2 separate regions of the Homo sapiens genome follow, and region 1 is linked to region 2. A link means that fine-mapping ties the variant in region 2 to the expression of a gene that starts in the linked region. Tissue or cell type: subcutaneous fat. Region 2 holds a variant in brackets; the other region holds the start of a gene. All regions are shown on one strand. Distances are between the middles of the regions.

Region 1 (4,152 bases), 750 kb after region 2:
ACTCCTGCCTGGGTGACACAGCGAGACTCCGTCTCAAAAAAAAAAAAAAAAAAAAATCAAGCTCTTGCTGAATACTCTCTGAATGCCTGGTACTGCAGGAGGCCCTGGGAACTCAAAGTTTCTCTTAAGAACTGACCTTGACTTTAAGGATTGCCTGATTTAGGATCTGTGGACTTTGCTGACTGGGGACATCCAATTTTTAGGGAGAGATTCCTGGGAATTTTATTTGAAGGATGCACAAAAAGATTTAGCTTTTACGGGTGGATCACGAGGTCAGGAGATCGAGACCATCCTGGCTAACACGGTGAAACCTCGTCTCTACTAAAACAAAGTACAAAAAATTAGCTGGGCGTGGTGGCAGGCACCTGTAGTCTCAGCTACTCGGGAGGCTGAGGCAGGAGAATGGCGGGAACCTGGGAGGCGGAGCTTGTAGTGAGCCCAGATGGCGCCACTGCACTCCAGCCTGGGTGACAGAGTGAGACTCCGTCTCAAAAAAATAAATAAATAAATAAATAAAAAAGATTTATCTTTTAAGTAGGTCCACAGTGGATATATTTATAAAGTGAAAAATTGGAAATAGCCTTAATGTCCAACTGTAGGATATTGGTTTAATATGTGATAAGACAAATCGAGTATTATGCAGTCATTCAAGAGGAAGCAGATGGATATTTGCTGATACAGAAAGATGTTCATTATTAAGTGAAAACAATATACAAAACACTATTTGTATATCAGTAATAGGCCAGGCATGGTGGCTCACGCCTGTAATCCCAGCACTTTGGGAGGCCAAGGAGGCAGGATTGCGTGATCCCAGGAGTTCCAGACCACCTTGGGCAACATGGTAAGACCCTGTCTCTACAAAAAATACAAAAATTAGCTGGACGTGGTGGTGCACGCCTGTAGTCCGAGATACTTGGGAGGCTGAGGTAGGAGAATCACCTATGCCCGGGAGGTGAACGTTGTAGTGAGCCGTCACTGTGCCACTGCACTCCATCCTGGGCAACAGAGTGAGACCCTGTCTCAAAAAAAATACACACACATATTTTAAAGCCTAAAGGCTAATATACCCCAAAATTAACAGTGGGTATCTATAAGCGGCTTTTACAATTATTTTCTTGTTCTACATTTTTCCCCTATTTTTTTTACAATAAATGTGCATTTCTTGTCTGAAAAATAGCAATATATTTTATTAACCTTAAAATTATTTGATGCTATTAAAATATAACTGAAAATAATAATAAAAGAAAAGGCAAGTTTGCCAGCTCTCCCCGTCTCCCTCCCCAGCCTTATCTCCTGACTGGATTCTTGCTCACTCCCAATAAACACGGACTCTTAATTCGTTTCAGTATTTACTAACCTCAAAACAAGGCAATGTAAAGATGAATAATCATACTCTGTAGGTGATCTGCATCCACGCCAAATTTTGAGATGCGTTGAAAGAGGAAGTTCTTTACCTCTCTGCCTTCAATTATTTATTCTCGTTTAACCCATTTCCTCCGTTCATTCCTAACTTGAGGGCGTTTATTTACTTTTATCTACGCATGCGCACTCCTGGCTGCTAGAGAGGGCCTCTTCGCCCGGCGGTCCCGCCTTCTGACGTCGACCATTGGCCGGCTCTGCCAGCGCGCTCCTGATTGGTGGCTGAGGGCCGGGCCCCGCTGCTTCTCAAAGTTGGCGGGAAAGCGGAGGCGGGGCGGAAGGGTGCGGCGAGGCGGAATGGCGGCGGCTGCGGACTCGTTCTCAGGCGGCCCCGCGGGGGTGCGGCTTCCGAGGTCGCCGCCACTCAAGGTGCTGGCGGAGCAGCTGCGGCGCGACGCGGAGGGCGGCCCGGGCGCGTGGCGGCTGTCACGGGCGGCGGCGGGCCGCGGGCCGCTGGACCTGGCGGCCGTGTGGATGCAGGGCAGGGTAGTGATGGCGGACCGCGGCGAGGCTCGGCTGAGGGACCCGAGCGGGGACTTCTCGGTCCGCGGCCTGGAGCGGGTGCCGCGCGGGCGGCCCTGTCTAGTCCCAGGTAATGCCCGGGCCTTACCGGGCGCCCTCTTCCCTGCTGCCCGCCGAGAAGTTGCCGAGGCCAGATTCGATCTTGTTGTTGACACTCGAACGGGGGCGGGGCGGGTCTGGCCCTCCTCCGGGCCTCTGCCCCTGCGGGTCCCCGCTTGGGTACCCTTGCTCCGGTCCCTCCTTGGTGAAGTTGATCTGATGATAAGCATCACCTGCCGTCCCTTTTACAAATACAGATTCCTGGGACTCTCCCACCCCTAGTGGGAATCTTCTGGGGAGGGACTCCGGCACCTTCGTTTGTCACAAGCCCCCTCTCCCAGTTGATATCCTTGTTTTGGGAAATACTGTCCTGGGAAACTTCTGCTCATCCTTAACGTCTCAGCTCAAATGTGCCTTTCTCAGGGAAGTCCTCCCTAGCCCCTAGGAACGGGAGACCCTCCTGTACTTCTCCTTAATTGAACTGTCTTGGGCTGTAGCTCACTCATGTTTGCCTCCTCTCTTTTTTTTTTTTTTTTTTTTTTGAGACGGAGTCTCACTCTGTCGCCCAGGATGGGGTGCAGTGGCGCGACCTCAGCTTACTGCAGCCTCCACCTCCCGAATTCAAGCGATTCTCATGCTTCAGCCTCCCGAGTAGCTGGGATTACAGGCATGTGCCACCACACCCGGCTAATTTTTGTATTTTTTAGCAGAGACTGGGTTTTGCCATGTTGGCCAGGCTGGTCTCGAACTCCTGGCCTCAAGTGATCTGCTCATCTCGGCCTCCCAAAGTGCTGGGATTACAGACATGAGCCGCTGCGCCCTGCCTGCTTCCTCTCTTAAACCACTGATGCTCAAACTTGAGCCAGCATCAGTCTCTCCTGGAGGGCTTGGTAAAGCTGGGATGGCTGGGGCTCCACCCTCAGGGTTTGTGAGTCAGGAGGTCCAGGTGGGGCTGGAAATTTGCATTTCTAACCAGCTCCCAGGTGATGCTGATGCTGCTGGTCTGGGGACCATACTTTCGACTTTTTAAATGTTTTATTTATTTGAGATAGGGGACTCACCGTGTTGCCCAGGCTGGCCCTGAGCTCAAGCAATCCTCCTGCGTCAGCCTCCTTGGGTAGCTGGGACTACAGGCCTGTACCACCACGCCTGGTTTGGGGGCCATACTTTGAGAACCACTGGGCCAGCCCAAGCTACTGGAGGGCCAGAGCTGTGTGGTCCTGACAACTGTATCCTCAGCATCTGGCCCAGTTCCTGACACATAAGTGCTCCAAGAACCAATAGTCTTGAGTGATAGGCAATGGGCATCCATCTCACTTGTTCCCTGGGATGTCAGTTGAGCACGTGTTGTACATCAGCCCCTCATGTGCAGTGTTGGGCTGCAGCCGAGACCTAGATAGAGTCTGCTGGGAGACAGGCAGTGAGCAAGTGTCGCAGAGGATCGCTGATCTTTGGGGAGCCATGAGGATGTGCAAGGTGCTGAGTGGCCCGGGGAGGCTTCTAGAGGATGTGAGGTCTAAGCTGAGGAGCTCTGAGGCTCCATGGGCCTTCCCTCACCTCAGCTCCCTCTCCTGGGAAATCAGGCCAAGATCACTTCATTCCTAAGGGCCCTTCCTGCTCAGTCTTGGAGTCTAACTAGAGGCAGATAGGGCTGTGGTCTGGCCTGAGCTGCTGTGGACTCGGAAAGGCTTAGGTCGAATTTCTGGTTCCACCCCTTCCCAACTGAGCTGCCTGGAGCACTCTTGTTAACTTTTCTGGACTTGTACTATTTTGTAAAAAGGAGCTAATCATTCCTGCGTGTTGTGTGGATTCAATAAGTAAACAACTGCCTTAGTACTGCACCTGGCTCACAGTGAGGATGCAAAATATCAGGACTCGTTTACTGCCACATGCTCCTGTTCCGTCTTCCCACTGCCTTACCCATCAGCCTTCCCTCTGTCTGCCTGCCCTCAGCCGCAGCGTTGGTCTAGGACAGGGTCAGCAAACTACAGGCCTCCTCTTTTCATGTGTCCTGCGAACTAAAAATGCTTTTAAAATTTTTATGTATTACTATTATTATTTTTGAGACAGAATCTCGCTCTGTCTCTCAGGCTGGAGTACAGTGACGCAGTCATGGCTTGCTGCAACCTCCACCTCCTGGGTTCAAGCGATTCTCATGCCTCAGCCTCCCGA
Region 2 (4,317 bases):
AATATTATTATTGCTACTATTTTTAGAGACAGGGTCTCACTATGTTGCCCAGACTGGTCTTGAACTCCTGGGCTCAAGTGATCCTCCCACCTTGGCCTCCCAAAGTGCTGGGAATACAGGCTTGAGCCACCATGCATGGCCAAAATTATTTTTTTCATTTAAGTTCATGTATTTATTTTTAGTGATATATTAGATATACATATTTTTAGGGTACATGTAATAATTTGATACATTCATATAATCAAATCAGGATAATTGGAATATCCAAGGATCTCCAAATTCTTAATGACCACACTCAACTGTCTTGTGTCCCCCTCAAGCTTTCTCTCCTTAGTGGCCTCTTCATGCATTTATCTTGACCCAATCTCCATTTCATTTCCAGCCCCGGAATACTTCCTCCTTTCCCTCCACCAGGAGGTGAGATGCTCTCAGGAAGCCTGACTCAAGTGACCTTGTGCCCAGCACATCCTCGTTCCTGGAAGGATGCCAGGGAACCTCTGGGTCCTTTCAGTTGATGGTCTCAAACCCAGAGTCAGTGCAGACTGGGGCTGTTCTGAGGAAGGGAGACCAGGTGCCTCCCCATCTGCAGGGCAGGAGTGTCACAGTTCACTGGCTGGCACCCTCACCAGCCCACACCCTACACTCACCCAACCAGTTGGGCCACACCACCCACATGCCAGGCGGATCCGTTTGGACGGGCGCACAGCATGACCCAGCTTGTCTGCCACCTGTCCTCGGCTGCTGGGTTCCTCCCATCCTCCCACCTCCCAGGTGCCCCAGGTCCAGGTGTTCAAGGGCTCCTCCGTGCACATGCCCCTCCTCCATGAGAACGCTTTGTGTGTCTCACAAAGAAGAGAAACAGATCGTTTCCTGGAAGCTCAGGGAAGATCACTGCTGGGGATTCCCTGGCCCTGGGTGCCGGGCTCCCCTTTGTGGGAAGTGATTCTGAAGCCCAAGTATTCCTGTATGGAGGGAGGTTGGAGAAGTTCTTCCCAAGGGGATGGAAGGCCAGGTTGGCGTTCTGATATGACTTCCTTGTCTCTTGCCTGGCCTCAGTTTTCCCATTTGAAAACAGGACAAAGAATTCCCTCATTGTAACTCTCTGAAGTATTCTATAGAGGATTACTTGGCATTACACACACTCCACTGCCCCCTTAATTAATTTATTCTTTTATTCAAATATTTTTAAATTTTGTATTTTAAAATTTTGTATTTTTATTTTTTTGAGACAGAGTCTCACTCTGTTGCCCAGGCTGGAGTGCAATGGTGCCATCTCGGCTCACTACAACCTTTGCCTCCCAGGTTCAAGTGATTCTCCTGCCTCAGCCTCCTGAGTAGCTGAGACTACAGGAGCCTGCCACCACCATGCCCGGCTAATTTTTGTATTTTTAGTAGAGATGGGGTTTCACCATGTTGGCCACGCTGGTCTCAAACTCCTGGTCTCAAGTGATCCACCTGCCTCGGCCTCCCAAAGTGCTGAGATTACAGGCATAAGCCACAGTGCTCAGCCTCAAATATCATTTTTTTGAAACGCTGGCCAAGTTCCAGGGGCTCTGCCTGGCCCAGGAAGGTAGGAGGAGGCGCAACACTCAGAGAAGGGGCTTACACCAAACGGGAGGCCGACAAAAGCAAATCAACATATAAGGCAGCCAAGCAACCTCAGCTCACGATATGTGCCCTGAGGAAAATATAGCTGGAGGACGTGGTAGACACTGACCACAGGGGCAGGGCAGGGCCTGAGGACACCGCGGATAAAGGCTGAAACAACCAGAAAGAACCACCGTGAGAAGGAAGGTCTGCCGCTGAATGTTCTGAGCGAGGAAGCAGCAAGT[C/G]CAAGTGCCCTGGGGTGACTAGGAGCTTGCCCTGTCTGAGGCATAATCAGTGACCGTGTTGCTGAAACATGGCGCACGATGGGGAAAGTGGCAGGAATGAGGTCAGAGGGAAAGGCTGGGGCGGGAGCCTGTGGGGAGCCCTCTGAGGATTCTGCGTGCAGCAAGAGCCTCCCCAGCCACAGGAGATACAAGATCTTGCATGACTTGGGAGGAGCCTAGAAGTGGGTACCACCTTCCTCCCCCACCCCTGGTTCCCTGGGGCTGGGACTCCTATTTGGAGAGAGGATCTGATCGGCTTAGCTTGGGTTATATGTCCACCCCCATGGCCATGGGGAAGCCAGAACCCCTTATTAGACACCCCCATCCCCCAGATCTGTACAGCATGGCCAAAGGGTAGTTCCCAAAAGGGAATGCATGCAGCTAGCAGAGAAAGGAGGACTGGGCACTGGGCAAACAGAAGCCACAGCTGTGCGCTCCTTTCCACCTGACTCCCACTTCCGACCTAGATTTTGATGCCTTTCTCTGCTGTCTGAGCCCCACTCGCCACCATTTCCTACCCACCCCAGGAGTTTCTGGGATACTGGGTGGCACCCATTTGTCACTTAATAGAATCATAAAACTGAGAGAAATGCCCAGGACCATCGTGTCACTGTTGCACTTTGGAGATGGGGAAACAGTCTGGCGTGGTGAGAAGCCATGGGTCCTAGAACTTTGTGCTTCTGATTTACCCACCATGGAATTCTGCTGCTTCTTTTAGGATTCCTGAAGGAATTCCTTGTCCCCCGCTCCCACCTTCAGCAGCTTCATTTCACCCATGTGGGTGTGGCCACAATGTAAGGAGATGGTTTTTCTTTTCCTTGTGCAACCCAGCTAAGAAGTTTGCATCACACGTCATGTTTCCCCATAGACATACTACAGCTTATGGAGCTGGCTATGCCTGGGTTTGACTGACTGTGTGACATTACACAGTCATTTAACCTCTCCGTGCCTTCATTTTCTCATCTGTAAAATGGGACTACTACTACTACTACTCCCTACCTCCTAGGACTGCGGAAAGGTTGAGTTCGAATACGCAAAGCACTTAGAATAACCCTTCGGGTATATTACCTTCAGAGTGGTGATGTGTAATTTGTAAGCCCCTACAATGACTTGCACACACTTCATGCTTTGAAACTCTTTGTGAATTTCTTTTGTTCCTTCATTCAACTAACACCTTTTGGGCATTTGCCAGGCCCAGGCACTCACAGTGAACAGGCCAGACAAGGTCCCCACCCTCTCTAGGGGTAGAGATAGACCATGGGGGGAAAAATCAATCAGTCAATAAGCAAGAAAACAAGACACTTTCAGTATGACAAGTGCTAGGAAGAAATGAAACAGGGTGACAGAGAGAGAGTGGTGAGGGCGCTGTTGAGGCAGTGATCTGGGAAGATCTCTCTGAAGGGTGACAGTTAGACTAGAAGAGTAACCAGCCATGGAACAAAAACTTCTTGTAGAGGACATAAACAGCAGGTGCAAAGTCCCTGGGGTAGGGAAGAGTCACGTGCGTGTGATGGAAAGGAGGAAGTTGCTATGGCTGGAATGAGTTGGGGGAATGAGAGATAAGGAGAAACCAGAGAGGCAGGCAGGGGCCACATTAAGCAGCTCTCCTTGACCATGGTAGGAATTTGAATTTGATCCTAAGGATGGTGGAAGCCTGTGAACAGCTGAAGCAGTGGAGTGAATGAGCCAATTCATGTTTTCTGGCTACTGTGGGAGAAATGGATTGGAGGGGACAAGATTAGAAAAGGAGAGACCAGTCATGAGGCTGTTGAGAAATGGTGAGACATATCCTTGGGTCCCTACAGAGCACTTAGCCAGGCACCTGGGGCACCTCATCAAAGAGCACTGCTCACAACCTGCAGGTGGTCCCTGCTTGTGAGGCTTCATCACTCCACGAATGAAAGAGGATAACTCCATACAACCTGGGGTGCCCTGGGCAGAGAACTGGAGGTGTGTCCCTGCCTGGAACCTGCTCCAGGATCAATCCTTTTTTTTTTTTTATGAGACGGAGTCTTGCTCTGTCGCCCAGGCTGGAGTGCAGTGGTGCAATCTCAGCTCACTGCAACCTTCGCCTCCTGGGCTCAAGCGATTCTCCTGCCTCAGCCTCCTGAGTACCTGGGATTACGGGCACCCGTCACCACACTAGGCTAATTTTTATGTTTTTAGTAGAGACAGGGTTTCACCACATTGGCCAGGCAGGTCTTGAACTCCTGACCTCAAGTGATCCACCTGCCTAAGCCTCCCAAGGTGCTGGGATTACAGGCGTGAACCACTGCACCCAGCCAGGAATCAGTCTTGTTCCAGCAGCCCTGCTAGGGCCCTGGCTCTGGCCTCTTTCCAACCTCCGGGGAGTGCCCAGGGCAGAAATCCGGCCCTGCCCACCCTGGGCTGCACACCGATAACCTCCCCAAAGGGAAGCCGTTTGTTTGGAAGGAAATGGTGCAGA

Evidence for each region. PIP is the estimated chance that this variant, and not a neighbour inherited with it, causes the effect.
Region 1: RMI2 starts here. The variant in region 2 is fine-mapped to the expression of RMI2 in subcutaneous fat (FUSION, PIP 0.95).

Annotation. Positions count from the first base shown.
Region 1 is chr16:11,343,756-11,347,907 of GRCh38, forward strand. RMI2 (RecQ mediated genome instability 2) reads left to right here and starts at 1,704. Exons shown (of 2, transcript NM_152308.3): 1 at 1,704-2,011. The coding sequence starts at 1,717. All of the region lies in intron 1 of LOC105371082 (a long non-coding RNA gene), which reads left to right. LOC105371083 (a long non-coding RNA gene) reads right to left here and starts at 1,457. Exons shown (of 2, transcript NR_135174.1): 1 at 1,358-1,457. RefSeq lists silencers at 1,773-1,932, 1,953-2,032.
Region 2 is chr16:10,594,089-10,598,405 of GRCh38, forward strand. No RefSeq gene overlaps it. Among named protein-coding and RNA genes, the nearest start is that of EMP2, 16 kb to the left of the region's middle. RefSeq lists enhancers at 201-717, 3,144-3,438. The variant C/G (reference allele first, on the strand shown) is at 1,833.